Linked DNA regions of Homo sapiens: region 2 is linked to region 1. The links come from fine-mapping of genetic effects on gene expression. A gene starts in region 1. The other region holds a variant in brackets. All regions are shown on one strand. Distances are between the middles of the regions.

Region 1 (4,375 bases):
TATCTCAGAGTTTTTGTGGGGTAGGAGTTCAGGCACAGCTTAGCTGGCTTATTCTTGGGTCTTACGAGGCTATAATTAAGTTGTCAGCTGGGTTGCATTCTCATCTGGAGGCTTGACTGGGGAAGGATCAAAGCCCCCTCAGATTCCTGGCAGAATTTGTTTCCTTGAAGTTGTAGGAATTATGGCACCTCGCCTCTTCAAAGCCAGCAGCTGAGAGACCCTTGAGAATAAGTCTGAGAGCAAGATGGAGTCTTTTATAACATCAGGTAATCATGGGAGGGACATCCCATCACCACTGCCATATTCTGTTGTTTAAAAGCAAGCCACAGGCTCTGTCCACCCTCAAGACAAGAGGATTATTCAAGGATGTGAACACCAGGAGGCAGGGATCATATGTCTACCTTACAACCTGTCCACCCCATAGGGGAATAATATTAAGGCAAGAGCTGAATCTAGTGTTTAGCGGAGGTCCTGGTGGGAGATACAGATTTTAGGATCATCAGCATATGGATGGCATTTAAAGGAATGGAACTGGATGAGCTCACTGAGGATGTAGATAGAAAAGATGTGCAAGGACTGAGCCCTGAGGTAAGGCACTCCGATGTTAAGGAGTCAAAGTGTTACCAGTGTGCCCTGGCATCTTGTAATCTCCCAGGATAGAAATAAAGAGAGATCAGCAGACATAGCAGCGAGGAGAAAGAGAAATCTTTATTTAGCTTGTGCACAAGGAAGTCAGCACCATGAAAGGAAAACGGTGGGGGGCCCCGCCGCCAGGGGGTGGCACGTGGGTTAGTTTCACAGGGAAGGGATTGGTCCAGGCATGGATAGGAGGGGTTTGTCTAGTGCTTCTCAGTAGCTTTGCATGCTTCTTCATGCATTGCATGCAACATTCACATTTTAAATCTCTACCCCTAGGTGTGATTTTTAGCGTGAAAATGAGGAAGGGGTAACAATAGTTGAAGTATAAGTCTAACTGCACATGTGGGGCCCGGGGAAGTCCCTAGGCCCCCAAAGCAGGAACTTGTGGTTAATAGCTTCTTGGGTCTTGTGCTGTGGATTGGCTGGATGTTAAGCTACAACTTGAGGAAGGGGCTTTCGTTCTTTTTCTCTACACCCCATCAAAACAGGCAAGCGGCCAGGCTGCCGGTTTTAAAAGGAGAGACTGGTAACCGAGACCCAAAGATGTGGTCTTTGGGATAAGAGGAAAGTGAGAGCACATGGTGTCCTGGATGGGGAGTGAAGAAAGCATGTGTAGCAAGAATGACTATCGATTTTGCTGTAGTTCCCGGAGGACGAGGACTGAGAACTGACCACTAACAATATAGAGATCACTGACAAAGAGTTTTTAGTGGAGTGGTTGTGTTACCGGAAAAGGGTCCTGATCCAGACCCCAAAAGAGGATTCGTGGATCTTGTGGAAGAAAGAATTCCAGGCCAGTCCACAGAGTAAAGTGAAAGCAAGTTTATTAAGGCAGTGAAGGAATAAAAGAATGGCTACTCCATAGAGCAGGGTGTTCCCAAAAGCACGAGGAGGAAGGCGTCCACCTGGGTACGCTTGTTTATATGTAAGATAAAAGCCAAAAAACATCACGGGGGAGACGTGCTGTACTACCTGGGCTCGTCAAAGGATTGCCAATCTTTGCATAACGCCTGTCCTCCGCAAGCATCTGTATCATTATCTTTAAAGCGAAACTTCAACTAAGAATGCTTCTTGTTCTTAAGATACCCGGACATCGGGACCTAAGTTCCGGGTCTGCTGCGTAAAAGTTTATTAACCTGTTCCCGTGACCGTAAACGCCCGACTCCTGGGGATGCAGCCAGCGGGGTTCAGCCTCAGTTTACCCAGCGCTGTTCGAGCTGGAGTCGCTCTGGTTGGAGCGCCTGACCGCGAGGGCCGAGGTCAGGCCGGACTGGGGTTCTCCGGAGCGAGCAGGAGAGGAGCGGGGCTCCTGCGGAGCGGCGCGGCGGGGAGGCCGAGGGCAGGGCGGGCTCGAGCTCGGGCTCTTCTGGCAGCGCCTCCATCCCCGTTCCGTTCACCCGGCAGCCGCCCCGTGGAGGAACCGCGCCCCATCTTTAGCCCTGTGAAACAGAAAGGCCCTTCCTCCGGCAGGCAGCTGAGGGAAAGATCGCCCTGCAGGGGATGTCGGGCCTGTCACTGCTTTGTTGCGGGCCACAGTTCCCTCCCTTCTCCGAGCGGGTCGCACGTCCGAAGGTCACCCCCGCCAGGTGGCTAGGCCCTGTCGCCACTCGACAGAGGACCGAGGAGGAACCAACCCACTGCCCAGACTGCAGCGCCGCCACGCTAGGGCCCGCGCCGACAACCGTCATGACTGGGCATGCGCAAACGGCCCCGCCGGGAGCCATTTCGCCGGGCTGCAGGGCTCGAGGAGAGAGCAGGTGCGCAGGCGCCGGGCGAGAGGCTGCGCCTGCCCTACCCTGGAGCGCGCGTGCGCGCGAGAGCCGGAAGGGGCGGTGCCTGGCGCGGCGCCTGCGCAGTGGGGCGGTGCCGGGGGCGGGGCGCGGCGGCTGTCAGCTGACTGTGGCGGCGGCGGCCTCGAGGTGACAACTGTCTCCGTCGCAGGCTCCGGCGGGGGCGCAGGAGGTCGCCCGGCGCGTCACTGTCGGGTCGGCGAGCCACGGGGGCCGCCGCAGCACCATGGCGACCACCGTCAGCACTCAGCGCGGGCCGGTGAGGCAGCCGGGCGAGGGTCGGGCGGGGGCGGTGACCTGCGGTTGCGGGCGGGGCCTTGGGTCAGGGCTACTGCTCAGCTGCGGCTGGCGGGCCGACTCCGCGGCTCTCCCGGGGCACGCGGGGCGCCTGGCCGGCCGGAGGGGAGCGGCGGCGTCCACACCTCGGGGCGGGGCGGGCCGGACGGACGCGCCCACGCTGCAGGAGGCTTGAGCTCACCGCCGTGCCGGGGCAGAGCTTTGGGGAGGCAGCCCCGGGGGAGGGGGCCTGCGCCCGTTGTGAGCCCCAGATGGAGGCGGGCCCCGTGCCCCATGGTGCCCCAGAGGGAGGCAGGCCCCGCTCCCCAATGGTCTCCAGATGGAGGAGGGCCCGGTGCCCAGATGGAGGCGGCCCCGAGCTCTGACTCCCGAATGGAGGAGGGCCCCGCACCCTAATGGTCCCCCAGGTGGAGGCGGGCCCTGAACCCTAATGGTCCCCTAGATGGATGCGGGCCCTGCTCCCTGATGGCCCCCCAGGTGGAGGCGGGTCCCGCACCCTGATGGCACCCTAGATGGAGGCGGGCCCCGCACCCTGATGGCCCCCCCAGGTGGAGGCGGGTCCCGCACCCTGATGGCCCCCCAGGTGGAGGCGGGCCTGCACTCTAGTTGGTCCCATAGATGATGGCTGTTTCCTCTTTCTCATTTACACAGAGTGAGGGCAGTGGTGACCACTTCTTGGGCCCAATTGTGTCCCCGGTTAGTGGCCACCGTGCAAAACCTCAGTTTCTTCATTTGCAAATGAGAGGATAGGCGCCAGGAACTTCAGAGAACCTTTCCTGCTCTGAATTCTCTCCTGAGAGTTGCCTGGCAGTTTCTTCTATAGCATTAATATTGCAGGAGAGCTGGTGTAGACTGACTCAGAGATGATGGGCTCCTGGCGTGAGTGGCCTCCTGGCTCACTGTTAGGGCCTTCTTGCATTGCTGTAAAGGAATACCGAGACTGGGTAATTTGTAAGAAAAGAGATTTAATTGGCTCCCGGTTCTGCAGGCTGTACAGGTAGCATGGTGCCGGCATCTGCTCCTGGGGAGGCCTCTGGAAGCTCCCAGTCATGGCGGAAGGCCAAGTGGGAGCTTACACGTCACATGGCGAAAGCAGCAAGAGAGTTGGGGGTGGGGAGGTGCCACACACTGTAATGACCAGATCTTGTGAGAACTCACTATCACCGGGACAGCACCAAGCCACGAGGGATCTGTCCCTGTGACCCACACACCCACCCTGCCAGGCCCCACCTCCAACATTGGGGATCATAATTCAGCGTGAGATTTGGCGGGGACACAGATTCAAACCGTGTCACTCACTGAGGCTGGGCTGGGGCAGGCTGTCGTGAGCGGTACAGTTTTTATCAACAGTGGCTCTGAACATGCCGTGGGTGGAAAAAGTCCTTTTTCACGATGCTCCAAGGTCCCTGCCCTCGCGCAGCCCAGTACTGGACGTGGTGGAGGGGTCACCAGGGCTCCCCACCCTTAACACTGTATCCACAAGTCCTGGTGTTTCTCCCGAGGAGATAATTCTTCAGGTAGAACATTTTTTCTGAGTTTAGAATGAAGCCCCAGGTTTTGGGCATAGCTGCTTTTTCTGAGGACTTTGAAGGAAACCTCCTGACACTTATGAGACTCAGGTGTGGAGCCTACGGGTCGGCAGAGGTCCT
Region 2 (4,375 bases), 22 kb after region 1:
CCCCTACTGCCGACTGCGCCTGGGCTACGCGGTGTACGAGACGCCCACGGCACACAATGGCGCCAAGAATCCCCGCTGGAATAAGGTCATCCACTGCACGGTGCCCCCAGGCGTGGACTCTTTCTATCTCGAGATCTTCGATGAGGTGAGAGGGACGTGCCAGCTATTATGGAGGCTGCACGTGGCTGAGCGTGGCTGCCGTGGGGACACACCTGCCAACACAGCCACGTTCCTGGCTGGCTTCGAGGCGTGGCTCCCCACCTGGTGTTTCATTGGGTGCATGACAGGGTCCTGCTCTCCCCAAGGAATGTGAAAAAGGGATTGTTTCCAGCTCCTTGAACATACTTACATTTGGAAACATCCCCAGTGACAAGCATGACCCAGGGATACAGCGTGCACGTGTCCCCTCCGCTGGGCGCACAGGGTCTGGCCGCTCACCAGCAGGTGGGATTTCCAGGGACAGAGCGTGCACGTGTCCCCTCCGCTGGGCACTGATCTGGCCGCTCACCAGCAGGTGGGATTTCCAGGGACAGAGCATGCATGTGTCCCCCGCCACTGGGCACTCGTCTGGCCGCTCACCAGCAGGTGGGATTTCCAGGGACAGAGCATGCATGTGTCCGCCCCGCTGGGCGCACAGGGTCTTGCCGCACACCAGCAGGTGGGATTTCCAGGGACAGAGTGTGCACGTGTCCACTGGGCACTCGTCTGGCCGCTCACCAGCAGGTGGGATTTCCAGGGACAGAGCGTGCATGTGTCCGCCCCGCTGGGCGCACAGGGTCCGGCCGCTCACCAGCAGGTGGGATTTCCAGAGAGTGCGGCTGCCTACTGGGTGGGAAAGCTGTTCTTGGTGGTGCGAATGGTCGTGACCCTTGAGGGTCCTGAGTCCCGTCCGTGGCTGCACCTGCAGCGCTTCTGAGGCAGAGTCAGAAGGTCAGAGGGGATGTGGCGAGGCTGCTGCTCAGTGTGGTCCTGGCACCTCGCACCTGTGGCATTGTGAGGCTAGAGACTGGGTGGGGGCCGGGGAGCAGTGTGGGGCAGCCAGGCCAGCAGACGGCCAGCCCTCCCTGCCTGGGCCCTGCCTTTTCCTCCCGGCTTTTCTCTCCCCGTCCCTACCTGCTTTCCCCTCCCTGGCCCTCAGAAGAGTAGAGAGCGCATGGGAAGTGCAGAGTCAGCTGTGGGAGGCAGACCCCGTGTCCTTTCCAGTCTGCACCCCGGCTGCTCTGGGGCTTGACAGGTGGCAGCCGGTGGAGCAAGGATGGGGCCCCGAGGGCTGGGGAGGAGCAGCCAGTGTCCCTGAAGTGGAACTGAAGGAGGACAGCAGCCCAGGGCCCTCGCTTTCCCCAGCCCCAGACCTGGCCCTGGCCCTGGCCCTGGCCCATCCTGGTGGAGAGAGGGAAGAAGTCCCCTACGGAGGCTGATATACGATCGTGAAGCCTGCGCTGCCCGAGGGGTCTCATCGATGGGGTGTTGGTGCAGGTGGGAGCCCTGTTCCACAGATAAGACGGGGACTCGAGGCGGGCCCACGATGGTGCGGCTGCAGGGGCAGGGTGGCCCCTTCCCTGATGCCTGGGGCCTCTCCCTCTTGTCTCCCGCAGAGAGCCTTCTCCATGGACGACCGCATTGCCTGGACCCACATCACCATCCCGGAGTCCCTGAGGCAGGGCAAGGTGGAGGACAAGTGGTACAGCCTGAGCGGGAGGCAGGGGGACGACAAGGAGGGCATGATCAACCTCGTCATGTCCTACGCGGTGAGCTGCACGCCTGGGCGGGGTGGGGCGCATTGGGGTATGTTGGAGCACGTCGGGGCTATGCCGCCCCACAGACACCCTTGTCTCTTTCCTGGAGGCACTGAGCCCATAAAACAGCAGGGCTCACGTTCTGAGGACAGAGGGCAGGGGCCCTGGGTGGTTTGGTGGCAGAGAGGGGCTGCCCTGCCCACTGCTCCTGCCCATGTTCTCTGTCTGGGGAAACAGCATAGGGGTTGTTTGTGTTCCTAAGATGAGCCAACCCTTTGTGGTGGTCTCCACTGCAGGCCCCTGTGTCCTCGGAGGACCCCCACAGCCCTTCCAAGCTCTGCCCTTAGGGTCCAGCTGAGCAGCCCTCCAGGGTCTGAGATACAGCCCTGGGCCCTGCAGGACACCAGGCTCCTCCCCA[C/A]AGGGCAGGCATTGGCCGTGGTGTGGCAGGGCATCTCTGGAGATGTCGGGGAAGCCTGGGGGCTGCTGTGCTCAGGGTCAGGAAGTCGAGGCCTGGCTGTGGGGCCAGCACGTCAGCGCCCTGGCTCCCAGCCATCTCCATTCTCAGGGCACCTGCAGCTCCTGGGGGCATCAGGAGGGCCAGTTAGAGGCTCCAAGACGCAGAGCTCCTGCCGTCTCGTCTGTATCATCAACCAGAGGATTTTCAGGCTGTTACTGAAAAATGGTGCTGTGGGAAATGCCAGGCAGATGTGACAGCAGAGAGGGTGCAGCAGAGAGGGTGCAGCAGGGAGGGTGCAGCAGGGAGGCTGCAGCAGAGAGGGTGCGGCAGGGAGGCTGCGGCGGGGAGGGTGCGGCGGGGAGGCTGCGGCGGGGAGGCTGCGGCAGGGAGGGTGCGGCGGGGAGGCTGCGGCGGGGAGGGTGCGGCGGGGAGGCTGCGGCGGGGAGGCTGCGGCAGAGAGGGTGCAGCGGGGAGGCTGCGGCGGGGAGGCTGCGGCGGGGAGGGTGCGGCGGGGAGGCTGCGGCGGGGAGGGTGCGGCGGGGAGGCTGCGGCGGGGAGGCTGCGGCGGGGAGGGTGCGGCGGGGAGGCTGCGGCGGGGAGGGTGCGGCGGGGAGGCTGCGGCGGGGAGGCTGCGGCGGTGAGGCTGCGGCGGGGAGGCTGCGGCGGGGAGGCTGCGGCGGGGAGGGTGCGGCGGGGAGGGTGCGGCGGGGAGGCTGCGGCGGGGAGGGTGCGGCGGGGAGGCTGCGGCGGGGAGGGTGCGGCGGGGAGGCTGCGGCGGGGAGGCAGCAGCAGGGAGCTGCTTTTCTGGGCCATCTTGGCTCCTCCCACCCCCTTTTTGTTAAAGCTGGGATATTTTAAATCATGTCCCGGCCGTGAGTGACGATGTGTAAATGTCTCATGACACGTCTTTAACAGACGCTTTCATACAAACACAGAACCATCATGACGCTCCAGTGATTTTACCTGCAGTTGACAGTTTCGAACTCAGAGACGACAGTGGTGCAGTGACTTATCCGCAGTTGACAGTTTCGAACTCAGAAGACAGCGGTGCAGTGACTTATCCACAGCTGACAGTTTTGAACTCAGAGACGGCAGCGGTGCAGTGACTTATCCGCAGCTGACAGTTTTGAACTCAGAGGCGACAGTGGTGCAGTGACTTATCCGCAGCTGACAGTTTCGAACTCAGAGACAACCGCGGTGCAGTGACTTATCCACAGTTGACAGTTTTGAACTCAGAGACAACAGCAGTGCAGTGACTTATCCGCAGTGGACAGTTTTGAACTCAGGAGACAGCAGTGCAGTGACTTATCTGCAGTGGACAGTTTTGAACTAAACTCAGAGACGACAGCAGTGCAGTGACTTATCCACGGTTGACAGTTTTGAACTCAGAGACAACAGCAGTGCAATGACTTATCCGCAGTGGACAGTTTTGAACTCAGGAGACAGCAGTGCAGTGACTTATCCACAGTGGACAGTTTTGAACTAAACTTAGAGATGACAGCGGTGCAGTGACTTATCCACAGTTGACAGTTTTGAACTCAGGAGACAGCAGTGCAGTGACTTATCCGCAGTGGACAGTTTTGAACTAAACTCAGAGACGACAGCGGTGCAGTGACTTATCCGCAGTTGACAGTTTTGAACTCAGAGGTGACAGTGGTGCAGTGACTTATCCACAGTGGACAGTTTTGAACTCAGAGTTGACAGCAGTGCAGTGACTTATGTGAAGTTGACACTTTCAAACTCAGACACCACAGCAGTGCAGTGTGGTTCCCCCCAGGCCGACTCGACACCTACACTGGGATGTCCCTCCTGTCACCATCCTCTCTCAGTCACATCCCAGTTAGAAGGGGGTCTGTAAGCCCGAGCCATGTCACCTCCTGGATTTGAGGAGGTGGTGCAGGGGTGGGAGCAGGGCCCAGCGTCCCCTGTGCACTCAGGGCTCGTGTAGCGAGGGTGATTCTGGGCTGGCATGGGGAGGGCGATTCTGGGCTGGCGTGGGGAGGGCAATTGTGGGGAGGGCGATTCCCGAGGTTCTGATGGGTGGATGTTCCTCCTTGACCCCGGGACCATCTCCGCTGTGTTTCAGCTGCTTCCAGCTGCCATGGTGATGCCACCCCAGCCCGTGGTCCTGATGCCAACAGTGTACCAGCAGGGCGTTGGCTATGTGCCCATCACAGGTGCG

Direction of the effects. Positions count from the first base shown, and alleles are read on the strand shown. Sizes are in standard deviations (SD) of each study's normalised expression.
As copies of A replace C in region 2, the expression in testis of the gene that starts at base 2,446 in region 1 goes down (moderate effect, 0.41 SD a copy in GTEx).

What was found.
Region 2: its variant is fine-mapped to the expression of TOLLIP-DT in testis (GTEx, PIP 0.98).

What each region holds. Positions count from the first base shown.
Region 1 is chr11:1,307,779-1,312,153 of GRCh38, reverse strand. TOLLIP-DT (TOLLIP divergent transcript) reads right to left here and starts at 2,446. Exons shown (of 1, transcript NR_029409.1): 1 at 1,447-2,446. TOLLIP (toll interacting protein) reads left to right here and starts at 2,522. Exons shown (of 6, transcript NM_019009.4): 1 at 2,522-2,688. The coding sequence starts at 2,656. RefSeq lists silencers at 702-831, 2,357-3,066 and an enhancer at 1,365-2,126.
Region 2 is chr11:1,285,997-1,290,371 of GRCh38, reverse strand. TOLLIP (toll interacting protein) reads left to right here. Exons shown (of 6, transcript NM_019009.4): 3 at 1-145; 4 at 1,596-1,748; 5 at 4,280-4,370. Among named protein-coding and RNA genes, the nearest start is that of TOLLIP, 21 kb to the left of the region's middle. The variant C/A (reference allele first, on the strand shown) is at 2,155.